Linked DNA regions of Homo sapiens. The protein of the gene in region 2 purifies or fractionates together with the protein of the main gene of each other region. This does not show direct contact. Each region holds a gene or a part of one and is shown on either strand. Other genes may lie near its edges.

What was found.
Region 1: the proteins of RAB28 (region 2) and HMMR purify together in Homo sapiens (affinity purification with mass spectrometry, with the first as the bait; one large-scale study listed by BioGRID). This does not show direct contact.
Region 3: the proteins of RAB28 (region 2) and CTPS2 purify together in Homo sapiens (affinity purification with mass spectrometry; one large-scale study listed by BioGRID and IntAct). This does not show direct contact.

Annotation. Positions count from the first base shown.
Region 1 is NC_000005.10:163,481,096-163,484,746, reverse strand, and holds part of HMMR (hyaluronan mediated motility receptor), read right to left. Parts: intron 2,144-3,651; exon of another isoform or gene 2,106-2,143; coding exon 1,959-2,105; exon of another isoform or gene 1,728-1,958; coding exon 1,575-1,727; exon of another isoform or gene 1,480-1,574; coding exon 1,380-1,479; intron 679-1,379; coding exon 502-678; intron 1-501. UniProt on the Homo sapiens protein: Receptor for hyaluronic acid (HA). Involved in cell motility. When hyaluronan binds to HMMR, the phosphorylation of a number of proteins, including PTK2/FAK1 occurs.
Region 2 is NC_000004.12:13,481,402-13,485,569, reverse strand, and holds the start of RAB28 (ras-related protein Rab-28), read left to right. Parts: upstream 1-1,229; 5' UTR 1,230-1,419; coding exon 1,420-1,494; intron 1,495-4,168.
Region 3 is NC_000023.11:16,688,653-16,692,303, reverse strand, and holds part of CTPS2 (CTP synthase 2), read left to right. Parts: intron 1-683; coding exon 684-764; intron 765-2,702; coding exon 2,703-2,854; intron 2,855-3,651. UniProt on the Homo sapiens protein: Catalyzes the ATP-dependent amination of UTP to CTP with either L-glutamine or ammonia as the source of nitrogen. Constitutes the rate-limiting enzyme in the synthesis of cytosine nucleotides.

The DNA.
Region 1 (3,651 bases), on a different chromosome or scaffold from region 2:
AAAAGGATAACAAGGTTTCATTTTGAGGTGATGAAAATGTCCTAAAATTGACTATGGTGATGGTTGCACAAATCTGTGAGTATACTAAAAAACACTGAATTGTCCACTTTCAATGGGTGGATTGTATGGGTTGTCAATTATATCTCAATACATATGTTAAAAAATTTAAATGCCCAAATATTTTTGAACACTGCTTCTCTTTATGGTTTTACATCAAGGAGTTTGCAGTTTTGCAAATGGAAATAGATATGTAAAGCTTAATGAATTCATCCAATTACTCAAGTAATTTTCAATATATTAAGAAGGTAGCTAGAAAACTTTAGAACATTGAATGCCCATCTGGTCAACACTCTAAAATAAATCCACTAAATCACAGCTCAATTTTCCTCTATAAACAGTTATTTTTTTCTGATACCAAAGATATTCATTTTATTTAAGTATTATAGTTAGAATAACCCCCACTCCAATATCTTTAATAAAATGAAAAGTCATTTTACAAACCGATTTGAGTTGGCTATTTTCATCTTTCAACTTCACAACATGCTTGATTTTTTGTTTCAAATTCTGATGACCCAATAATTTAGCATATGAATCTCTTATTTTATTTAGCTGTTCCTGAGCTGCACCATGTTCATTCAACAATGCCTGTTTTTCTACTTCAAAAGCATCTAGTTGTAGCTGAAAAAGATTTTTTAAATAAAGTTAAGACTTAAAACAGTTTGATCTTACTAGTTTCATATAAACCATAAACACTAAAGAAAATTAAAAACACAAATGAAAACAAGGTATGTTCACATATTCTCAGGGCTCTCCATAGATTCTCTATGAGAATCTTTTAAACTTTGTATTTTTCATTTTAAAGATCATTAAAACAGAGGAAAAGAAACAAGGTAAAAAAGCCAGCTGGCCAGTTTTATCTGTATCAGTTAGATTACCACATTATAACCAATACTGTACTTCTAAGTTCCAAAATCAGCATTTATTCTTTTTTCTTTTAAAAGATCAGTATATTGAGAAACAATGAGTATTTGCAATAAGTCATACCACAAATTAAAATAGGTTAATTATCAAAAGCTCATACCAGGCAAGCCCTCTGAGCCAAACTTTTAAGTTCCACATTACAAAGTTTTTTTTTAAACCACAAAGGGTCCATTGAAAAAATTATGTCAATTAAATTTGTCAATTATACTTCAATAATGTGGGAAAAAATTATGCATAATTTAATAAAATGTATAAACCTTTAATAGTGAGCTAAATTGGCACTGTAAGTGCAGAGCAAAATGATCTTGCAGAAAACCCGAGTCACTGTCCTCACTATAATAGGGAACAAAGTGAGTCCCTAAAATAAACACAAGTAAGTTTACTCCTAACTGACAAACCTGAAAAGGTTTTGTTTTATTATATAGTTCTTCATAGAGGAGACGCCACTTGTTAATTTCTTCAGTTAATTCTGCTGTTGTATTTTCTTTTTCAGCTTTTCTGCATGGAAGAATTAAATTGAGAAAAACATAGTTATTTAAAAAATCACATCGTAACTGAGTTAACAAGGCACTCAGGTTCTAATCATAGATTACCTTCCTTCTTCATCTTCCAGCTGTTTTCTAAAGTCTTCCTCCTGTTGCTTGAGTTGGTTCTGCAAATCAGTTATTTTTTGAAGAAAAGAAACTGTGATTTCTTTAATTTCTGTTTCCTTTAGTGCTGACTTGGTCTGCAGATCTAGAAGCATCCTTTGGTTTGAGAGAGAAGAGGTCACTAAACATTTTATAGCCACTTTCATTAATTTTTCCTTTTTTTTTCTTTAAACCTCAAGGAACTCTTCAAGAAGTGTCATTTTTTAACTGAGTAAATTCTTAATTTGCAGTATAAGATGGCCAAAAGCAAGCCAAGGGACAGTTACTAGCTGGCTTTCAACATTAAATTGTCTTAATGGTTCTAAGGCCATTATTTGCTCTATATACCTTACATATTCTTGATTTGAGCTCTCAGTTGCCAAAATCTGATGCTGAACATCCTCTGCATTTTTCCCAGCCTTGGCCGCTTTTTCCTGTAATGATGAGTTCTCCAGCTTAAGATCTTCTATCTCACTGGCTGTTAACGCTTTATAGCTTATTAAAAAGAAAAAAAAGTCAAAGTAGTTTTCTAACTATTGCGTATGACAATCATAACTGATTAGTTTACACTTTATATACTTCTAAGTAAAACTAAAAAGTTTTTAATGTATTCATGCATTTAACACAGGTAAGAATTCAGTGTTCTGAGGCAAGTACTAATGAGTTTACATGGCATCTGCTGTGTATTCAAAGAAAAAAAAATCAAGTGCCTACTAGGTGCAGGAAGTATGCATACAGAGATGGAAAAGAAATCAACTACCAAGCATGAAAATTACTCACAATTTAAAAAATAAGAAGTGAGACTAGAGCCTAATGAGTAAGAAAGGCTGGAGCAGAAGCTGGTGGCATGAGGGTCATCACCGCAGGGCACAGTGGGCTTACCTGGCGGACAGACGGGAACCATTAAAGGTGTCCAAGTAGGCTGGGCGTGGTGGCTCATGCCTGTAATCCCAGCACTCTGGGAGGCCGAGACGGGTGGATCACCTGAGGTCAGGAGTTCGAGACCAGCATGACCAACATGGTGAAACCCCATCACTACTAAAAACACAAAAAATTAGCCAAGCGTGGTGGTGGACACCTGTAATCTCAGCTACTCGGGAGGCTGAGGCAGGAGAATCACTTGAACCTGGGAGGGGGAGGTTGCAGTGACCTGAGATAGTGCCATTGCACTCCAGCCTGGGCAACAAGAGCGAAACTCCGACTCAAAATAAACAAATAAATAAAATAAAAAGGTGTTTAATTAAATGTGTAGCTCACTCTAGAGCTATGAGGAAGATGGATTAGGGCAGGGGAAAAGAATGGAAAATTGAAGGATCAACTCCAAAACAATTATTTATCAGCCCAGGTGAGTGATAAAGGAGGCTTAGACTAAGGAGCTGGCAATGGAAAGACACAAGATCTCTTTTGGAAGCAGAGTAGGAAAATTCAAGAGATAGACTGAATATTGGGGGTAAGGAAGAGAGAATGATGAAGGATGACTCTAAGATTTACAGAATGAAAAGCTGGGAAGATGATGTCACTGATTACAATAAAAACAATGAGAGACTAGGGGTAGAAAGCAATGGAAGGATCAAGAGTTGGTTTGGACAGGTTAATATTAAAAGACAGTGTGATATCTACTTGAAGATGTCAAGTGGGTAACTGGATATGTGAATATGGAGCTGTAAAGAAAGGTCTGGTTTGATGAAATAAATTTTAATGCCACGAGTATATGGATAGTGACTAAAATCACAGAATAGATAAAAACCCCCTGAAGCACTATTCTTCAAACTAACGAGAAGGGAAATTCCTTTACAGGATTGATATTAGCAATAAATATATATATATAAAATTTACATATATTTATATGATTTATATGTTCTGATACAATAAAAATTATAAATAAAACATATACACTTATAAATTATTTATCTATGTGTCTGTCATAATGTATCACATGTGGGAACAGATCACTGGGGAAACAAGGTACAATTTAATGAATTAAATTAAACTAGGCAGTTGGTTGTCCATAGGGAAAACAAAAAATGAATTTGATCCCTAT
Region 2 (4,168 bases):
GACTACTGCCTCTGGGCTAAGCATTTTGTTAACTTAAGATACTTCATCTGCAAAATGGGGATAATTATACTTCATAATTCCTAATAGTAGTAAAGGTAACAATAAATTTTAAGTGATTAACAATGAAACAACCATAGCAGGACAGCATTATTATTTTTGAATTTACCTCACTAAATTGTAAATTTCATTTATGCCGTTTACCTAACGCTCCTGGACTGAGATTATCCAGGGCAGCAGTTCTTAAATTTTTTGGACTCAGGGCCTCTCTATAATGTTAAAGAATTACTGTGACCTCCAAAGAGCTTATGTTTATGTGGGTTACACCTATCACTACTGCATTGAAATGAAAACTGAGAAATGTTTAAAAACAACAAACGCAAGCTCCCTTAGCTGCCAGTGATGACGTCGTACACAAAGCGTATCCTCCAGGAAACGGTATACTAGTGAGAGAAGGAACGTGAGAAAGACAGACAAGGTGTCCGTATTATTATGAAAATTGTTCTGAGGTCATCGGGATTTCCAGAGGTCCCTAGACCACACTTTATGAGAACTGCTGCCTTAGGGTAAAGATGGGGTGCCAGGAGGTTGGCGATCAGTAGCGTCTGATGAACGAACCATGGGAGCCTGGGGTTGTTCAGATGAGGAAACCAAGAGTTAGGCCGAAATAAGCAGCGCCGGAGCTCCACTGTATTCACGGCCGCTACTGAGGCTTCCCAGCAGCCTCGGCCCTTAGCAGCTGTCCCCTCATCCGCCCCGAGGTACCCTCTTCCCTGGTCCGGTTTTTCAGGGGCCCTCTCTGGCGCTCTCCGCCAGGCTACGGGCGTCCCGGGTGCCCGGAGACAGGCCCCGCCCCGCCGCCGGTCCTCGAACTCCTGGCTGCCAGGCAACCCTGGCGCGTAGCCCGGGCGTCACTGCTCCACCCCGTCAGGCTGAACCATTCCCTTCAGAGACTTTCTCAAGAGGGAAGGAGAAAAGGGAATTTGATGGAACGCCTGAAAGCTGCTCTGCTCCCGTTTTCTCTCCTTAATTTGAACGAACACTTCTTTTCTTCTTCTAGCCAACTGTCTCCTGAAGGGAAACGCAGCGCCTCGCCTCTCCCGCCGGAATGTCCCCCACACCAGTCCAGGGCCGCGAGTGGTTCGGCTCGTCAGGCGGGGCCGCCGGTCGGCGCGGGTTGGCTCTGAGGCGGGGGCGCGCGCCCGACGTGCGCGTAGGGGGCGGGGCCGCGCGCAGAGGGCGGGGAGGTGGGCAAGATGGCGCTTGCCGAGTGATTCTCCTCGAATACCTCCTGCCGGCGCGGAGACACCGGGGCGGGGGTCCTGCCGCAACTACCTCCCTTCCTCCTCTCCCCCGCCCCCGGAGCCTTCATCCTTCCCTTCCCCCCCCACCTCGAGGGGCGGGCCTGGTTCCCGGGACACCATGTCGGACTCTGAGGAGGAGAGCCAGGACCGGCAACTGAAAATCGTCGTGCTGGGGGACGGCGCCTCCGGGAAGGTCAGTCCTCGAGCAGGCCCGCCGTCCCAGGCCTGCAGGAACCCCGGCGGTCCCCGGCCTCCTCCCCGCCGCCCGGCGTCGCCTCGTTACCCCGAGCCCTCGGGCTTCTAGGCCCGGGCCCTTCTGGTTGTGTGGCCTGAGGCCGGACACGAAGTGGGCGCTTGGTGAAGGCCGACGAGAGCTGTCCAGCTCCCCCTTAAAAAAGAGTCACTTCCTAACTCCCCGCCTGGATTGCGAACTCCTGCAAGACTCGGGCCAGCCTTTCAGCTTCCCGCCTCTCAGGACTGGCAGGGATTTGCCAAGGCATCTTAGCTCCTCTTACTTGTAGTCTGGGTCACACTTACTCCTCCCCTCCCACCCCCTTTACCGTTTCTGATGCTTCTACTGCATCGTGAGCTCCCAGGAGCGTAGCTCTGGAATCAGTATTCCCCGGGTGAGAATTGGGGCTCTGCCACTTAGTCGTCGGGTCATTGGAGGGCAAATTGCTAATCAGTTTAAGCTTCATCTGTAAGATGGGTATTGAAAAGGGCCGCCGCAAAGGGAGAAATGTGAAAATACATATTAAATGTGAAAATACACATAAAACCTTTAGAGCACAGTGTCCACTCAGTACACTCTAGTTGCTATTTTAATATCATACCTGTTCATCACCTCTGTTTCCAGCTCAGCACTCGATACAAGCAGTCAGTCAACAAGTGTTTATGGAGCTCCTGTTACGGGTAGGATGCTGAGGGTAGAGCTGCTTGCGTGACAAAAGGGATCCCCTGTTCGAATGAATGAATGCGGGCGTGAGAATATCAGGCAGCGTCAGTCTTATTATCTCCTAGGCAGGGGCTCCTACCCCAAGGCTGTGGAACTCCTGAAATGGAGTAAATACTGCCCGGTACGTGCTCTGGGGAGAGGGTCCATAAGATCTCAGAGGGGTCTATGATCCCTCCACCAGCAAATAGTGAAGAGCCTCTACCCGGATGCCTTCTTTCCCATGCTTCTGTCAAAGGCGCCAACACTTTCTGGGAATATTGCTAAAGTTTATCACCCCTGTACTCCCCTTCCTTATCCCAACCATAGTCTAAAGAAACCCAGGCTTTTATTTCCTGTTTAAGGCTTCACATTTCCCTGTTGCTGGTTGCATTTCGGACCCTGGTTTCTCTGGTGACGACTTCTCTTTGCATCCTCCCTGACAGTTGGCACTGCCCAGATACCTGCTTCTGCCTTTGGTTCTGACATTTGAGTTTCGAGGTCACCTGGGAAAGATGTAAAATTTTATATGCAAAATTTGAAGTATTTTTTTGTTTCTTTCTTGTCTTCTTGGATCCTTTGTTACAGATTTTTAAAGCTGAGGAAAACAATATGCTCTGATTACCTTTAAACGTTGGGGGAAGAAAGGAACTTGGGGTAACTTTTCTTTATAAAGTATATTAATTTTTGTATACTTAGTAAACTTTTCGAATGAATGAATTGCTATAAATAAATCATTGTTTCTAACACCTTTATTCAATAAAAAGTTTGTTAGATTTTTATAGTTTTCTCATCATTTAGATTTTCTTTTGAAGGCCGTCTAAGGTTTTGGCTCTTAAATTTTACTGTATTCAATTCATAACTGATCTTATTTCCCATTTAAAATGATAATGACAACTCATAACAATACATTTGTAAAAAGACACAAAAATTGCTGGTTATCCTATATGCTATCATAATTCTTTAAACTGTTGTTCATTTTTCTAACAGTATTTATTGTACATATATTACTTAGTGAAATTTGTTCATAATTTTGCGTCTGAGTTTTTTATTTAGCCTATCATACATGTTTCCTCTTTGTTGCTAATTTAGTGTGAATAATTATGGTTTTTTATCTCTGTTTAAAATTTTTTCTTGTATAGGACAGGATAATTTTTTCACTTCCATGTTTTTGAATTAGTATTATCATTCTGCTTCAAAGGATAACAGTTAATATTTTTTATGGTGCTCTGACTTAATCTTCATTATCTTGACTAAATAACTTATTTTAAAACTGTAACAGCTTTTTCTAACAGGAACTTCCAGACACAAACATCTGACACCTAACCTTCTTTCATTATTCTTAAATCAAGAATTTTTTTCTCCATACCCTATTCAGTTCTCAAATACTTGGCAGCCACCAACATTCCCATTCTTTTTCCTTTATTGTTCTTTTCTTTGTGAACTCAGCCTCTCTTTCATTCTTACTTGTATCCTGATTTAACTCTTGGCTCTTTTTTCCTGGCATTTGTTTTTCCTGCTCAATCTAACTCTGAGCATTTTTCAACACACTGACAGATGCAATAGAGTATTGAGATGATGACTAACAGTTTCTCCAAGAGAAATTTAGCTCCTCCTTCCAGTATCACGTGTTTCTATTTCTTTCCTTTTCTGATTCATATTTTTTCTTTTATTACATAGTCTCTTAAGAGCTTTTTGAGGCAAAATATTCTTTTTTTTTCTGTCTTTTCAGTGTTTGTAAATGTAGCATGGTTAAAAAATGTTAGTAGAAATTTACCAAGTCAAAAATGTTAGTAGAAATTTTCCAAATCAAAAAATATAAAGATTCAGATAAAAATATTTCTGATATGGGAGCTAGTTGTTCACTTAATACCTGTAATTAAGAAGGGTATTTATACAGTGACTTGAGAAATTATTGAATGTGAAAGATAGCATG
Region 3 (3,651 bases), on a different chromosome or scaffold from region 2:
GTGTGTGTGTGTGTGTGTGTGTTTGTAGAGACAGGGTTTTGCTATGTTACTGAGGCTGGTCTCGAACTCCTGGGTTCAACCAATCCTCCTGCCTTGGCCTCCTAAAGTGCTGGGATTGCACCACGCCCAGTCCGCTGCTCTTATTTTTAGTCTAAACAGTGATGTGTCCTTATAGCAGGTGATCCAGTCATCACCAGTAGTCTCTGTCAGAGGTTGACAAATAACAGCCCACAACTTGCTTGCCTGTTTTTGTAAGTAAAGTTTTATTGGCATGCAGTCACACCCATTCATTTACATATTGTCTGTAGCTGCTTTCACACTGCACCTCAATTGAGGATCAGGACAGTGACTGTGTCACCTGCAAACCTAAAATATTTCCCATCTGGCCCTTTTGAGAAAAAGTTTGTTAACCCCGATCTAGCTCTTTTCTTGTAGTTAATGAAGCAACACTTGTGAGCCTGGACTCTGTTCACCAGAGACGTCTCGATGTTTCGAGTTCTTACTGATACACTTATGCTGAATTTGATTATACTTATATTAGTGCTCAGACCAATTTCTAATAGTCCAGTGGAATGTCCAAAGTGAACAAGTACATACTTGGCCAAGTTTCTTGTAAAAAGAAATGAATGTGGCATCCTGCTGAAAGTGAATCCTGTTTGCTGAAGCATAACTGGCTTTGACAGATTGTCTGCCGAAGTTCAACGCCCATTGAGATGGCCGTGAAGGAGAAGATTTCTATGTTTTGTCACGTGAACCCTGAACAGGTTGGTGCTGCTCTTTAGATTTTATTGTCTGGCAGGCACTTCTGCTGATGCCAGTGTTTTGTACCTCTTCAATGATCATATTACTTTTCACGGCATTTATGCAAGCACTGGGGAACCCTGATCCAACCATGATTCCCTAGCCCTTAAGTGAGATAGGATGCATGTTTCTTTGCATGATCACTCAACTTATGTCACAAAACCAGGGTGGGCTTTCTTTTCTTGAGACAGAGTGTCACTCTGTCACCCAGGCTGGAGTGCAGTGGCATGATCTCAGCTCACCGCAACCTCTGCCTCCTGGGTTCAAGCAATTCTCTTATTTTAGCCTCCTGAGCAGCTGAGATTATAGGCATGCGCCACCACGCCTGGCTAATTTTTTTGTATTTTTAGTAGAGATGGGGTTTTGCCATGTTGGCCAGGCTGGTCTCGAACTCCTGACCTCAGATGATCCGCCCGCCTCAGCCTCCCATAGTGCTGGGATTACAGGCGTGAGCCATCGTGCCCAGTACCAGGGTGGGTGTTTAACTCACAGTCAAACCTCTAGAGAGAGAACCACATGAAGCCTACTTATCATCTCTTTATCTTGTGTTTCCTTCTGGAACACTTACTGCTTTCACTCATTTCTCCTCTCTACCTGTGGCAGCTTAAGTCACCCCAAACACACGAGCACGTTGACATTCGCACTAGCTCTTCTGACTCCATCAGTGGGCTCAGTTGACTTCATTGGTACAGAAACTGTACTGTGATTTGGGCTTAGGTTCTCTGCTCTGTAGGGCTTTCCACCTTGGTATTCTGATAATTCGCTTTTCTTTTTTCTTTCCTTCTCTCATCTCTGTCTCTTGATTCCAATAAGGCTTGGTTATAAGGGATTGGAGTTACCTATAGTTTAAAGAGAGTGATATAAATGGTGCTCAGGAAAAGGGTGAGGTTTGGCAGAAATCTTTTCTTCAGATTATAACTCTGGGTTCTCTGAAGTCTAAAAATGATCAAATTGAATTTTGGCATCTTGGAAAATAGTCTGATGGAGAGCCCCCTGCCTGATGCCTCAGAGTCATTGCCGAAGTCTGAACTACTTTGAAAAATGTGATGGCAGATTGAAGGGACACTTCTGCATCTGTATGTTGATATGTTGTCATGCCATTTTGTTTGCGTCCAATCTTTTTTTTTTTTTGAGACAGAGTTTCACTATTGTCACCCAGGCTGGAATGCAGTGGTGCACTCTTGGCTCAGTGCAACCTCTGCCTCCTGGGTTCAAGCGATTCTCCTGCCTCAGCCTCCTGAGTAGCTGGGATTATAGGTGTGTGTCACCATGCCTGGCTAATTTTTGTATTTTTAGTAGAGATGGGGTTTCACCATGTTGGCCAGGCTGGTCTTGAACTCCTGACCTCAGATGATCCGCCTGCCTCAGCCTCCAAAAGTGCTGGAATTACAGGCGTGAGCCACCACACCTGACCTGTCCAATCGTTTTGTGTACACTTCTTTTTTTTTTTTGAGATACAGTCTTGCTCTGTCACCCAGGCTGGTATGCAATGGTGCGATCTCGACTCACTGCAACCTCCGCCTCCTGGGTTCCAGCGATTCTCCTGCGTCAGCCTCTTGAGTTGCTGGGATTATAGGCACATGTCACCATGCCCAGCTAATTTTTGCATTTTTAATACAGGTGGGGTTTCACCATGTTGGTCAGGCTGGTCTCGAACTCCTGACATCAGGTGATCTGCCCGCCTCGGCCTCCCATAGTGCTGGGATTAGTTTTCTAATTAAATGAAGCTAACCTTGTGCAAATTCTGATGCTAGCTTTGGTTGCTGGGTTTTTGTGTGTGCGTGTGTGTGTGTTATATCAGTGTAAATAAACTGCCAGTCTCTGCTGAATTTTGTTTCATTCTTGTGGTGGCATATTTGAATAGATCCATCTAAGTATGGTGATTTCTCATCGCCACTTAGGTCATATGTATCCATGATGTTTCTTCCACATACCGAGTTCCTGTGCTTTTAGAGGAACAAAGCATTGTGAAATATTTTAAGGAGAGATTGCACCTGCCCATCGGTGATTCTGCAAGTAATTTGCTTTTTAAGTGGAGAAATATGGCTGACAGGTAAGCGAAAGGAATTACTTGTATAATCTTTAATAATTTTTGAGTTTGGGGGTAGAACTAAGACCTACTTGAAAGGGTAAGCGTGTGTATTTGGCATTTTGCGTGTGCACATTTTGGTCTGGATATGTCTAAAGATGGAGCATACTGTTGCGGTGCTTTGCTGTATTATTTGAAGATTTCTGGAGCCTTTGATTTTGTTATACATAAACCAAAGTGAATTAAAGGAATTCGAATTCTGGAAGGAATGTTTTTTTAGCTCTGGAAGGATTCTGATTTATTTGATTTATTTGCTAGTTCATTTTTTAGTTTCTGAATATTTAAAATTTTTTTTTGTTTGTTTTCTTTTTTCTTTTTTGAGAGTCTTGCTCTGTCACCCAGGCGGGAGTGCAGTGGCACGATCTCGGCTCACTGCAACCTCCACCTCCTGGGCTCAAGTCATCCTCCCACTTCAGCCTCCTGAGTAGCTGAGACTAGAGGCACACACCACCACACCCGGCTAATATATATTTTTTTTTTTTTGTAGAGACGGGATTTTTCTATGTTACCCACACTGGTCTTGAACTCCTGGGCTCAAGTGATCTGCCCACCTTGGCCTCCCAAAGTGCTGGGATTATAGGCATGAGCCACCATGCCTGGCCTTAAACAGTTTTAAACTTCACAGGTTTTTTGTTTTGTTTTGTTTTGCTTGTTTTTAAGATTTGGCTAACTTTTCCTAAAGAAAATCATTTTGGATGGGAACTTTTGGCTATGCTAGTTTTGTTTCATCCTGCATTCATTAACTGTTCAGCATAATTATT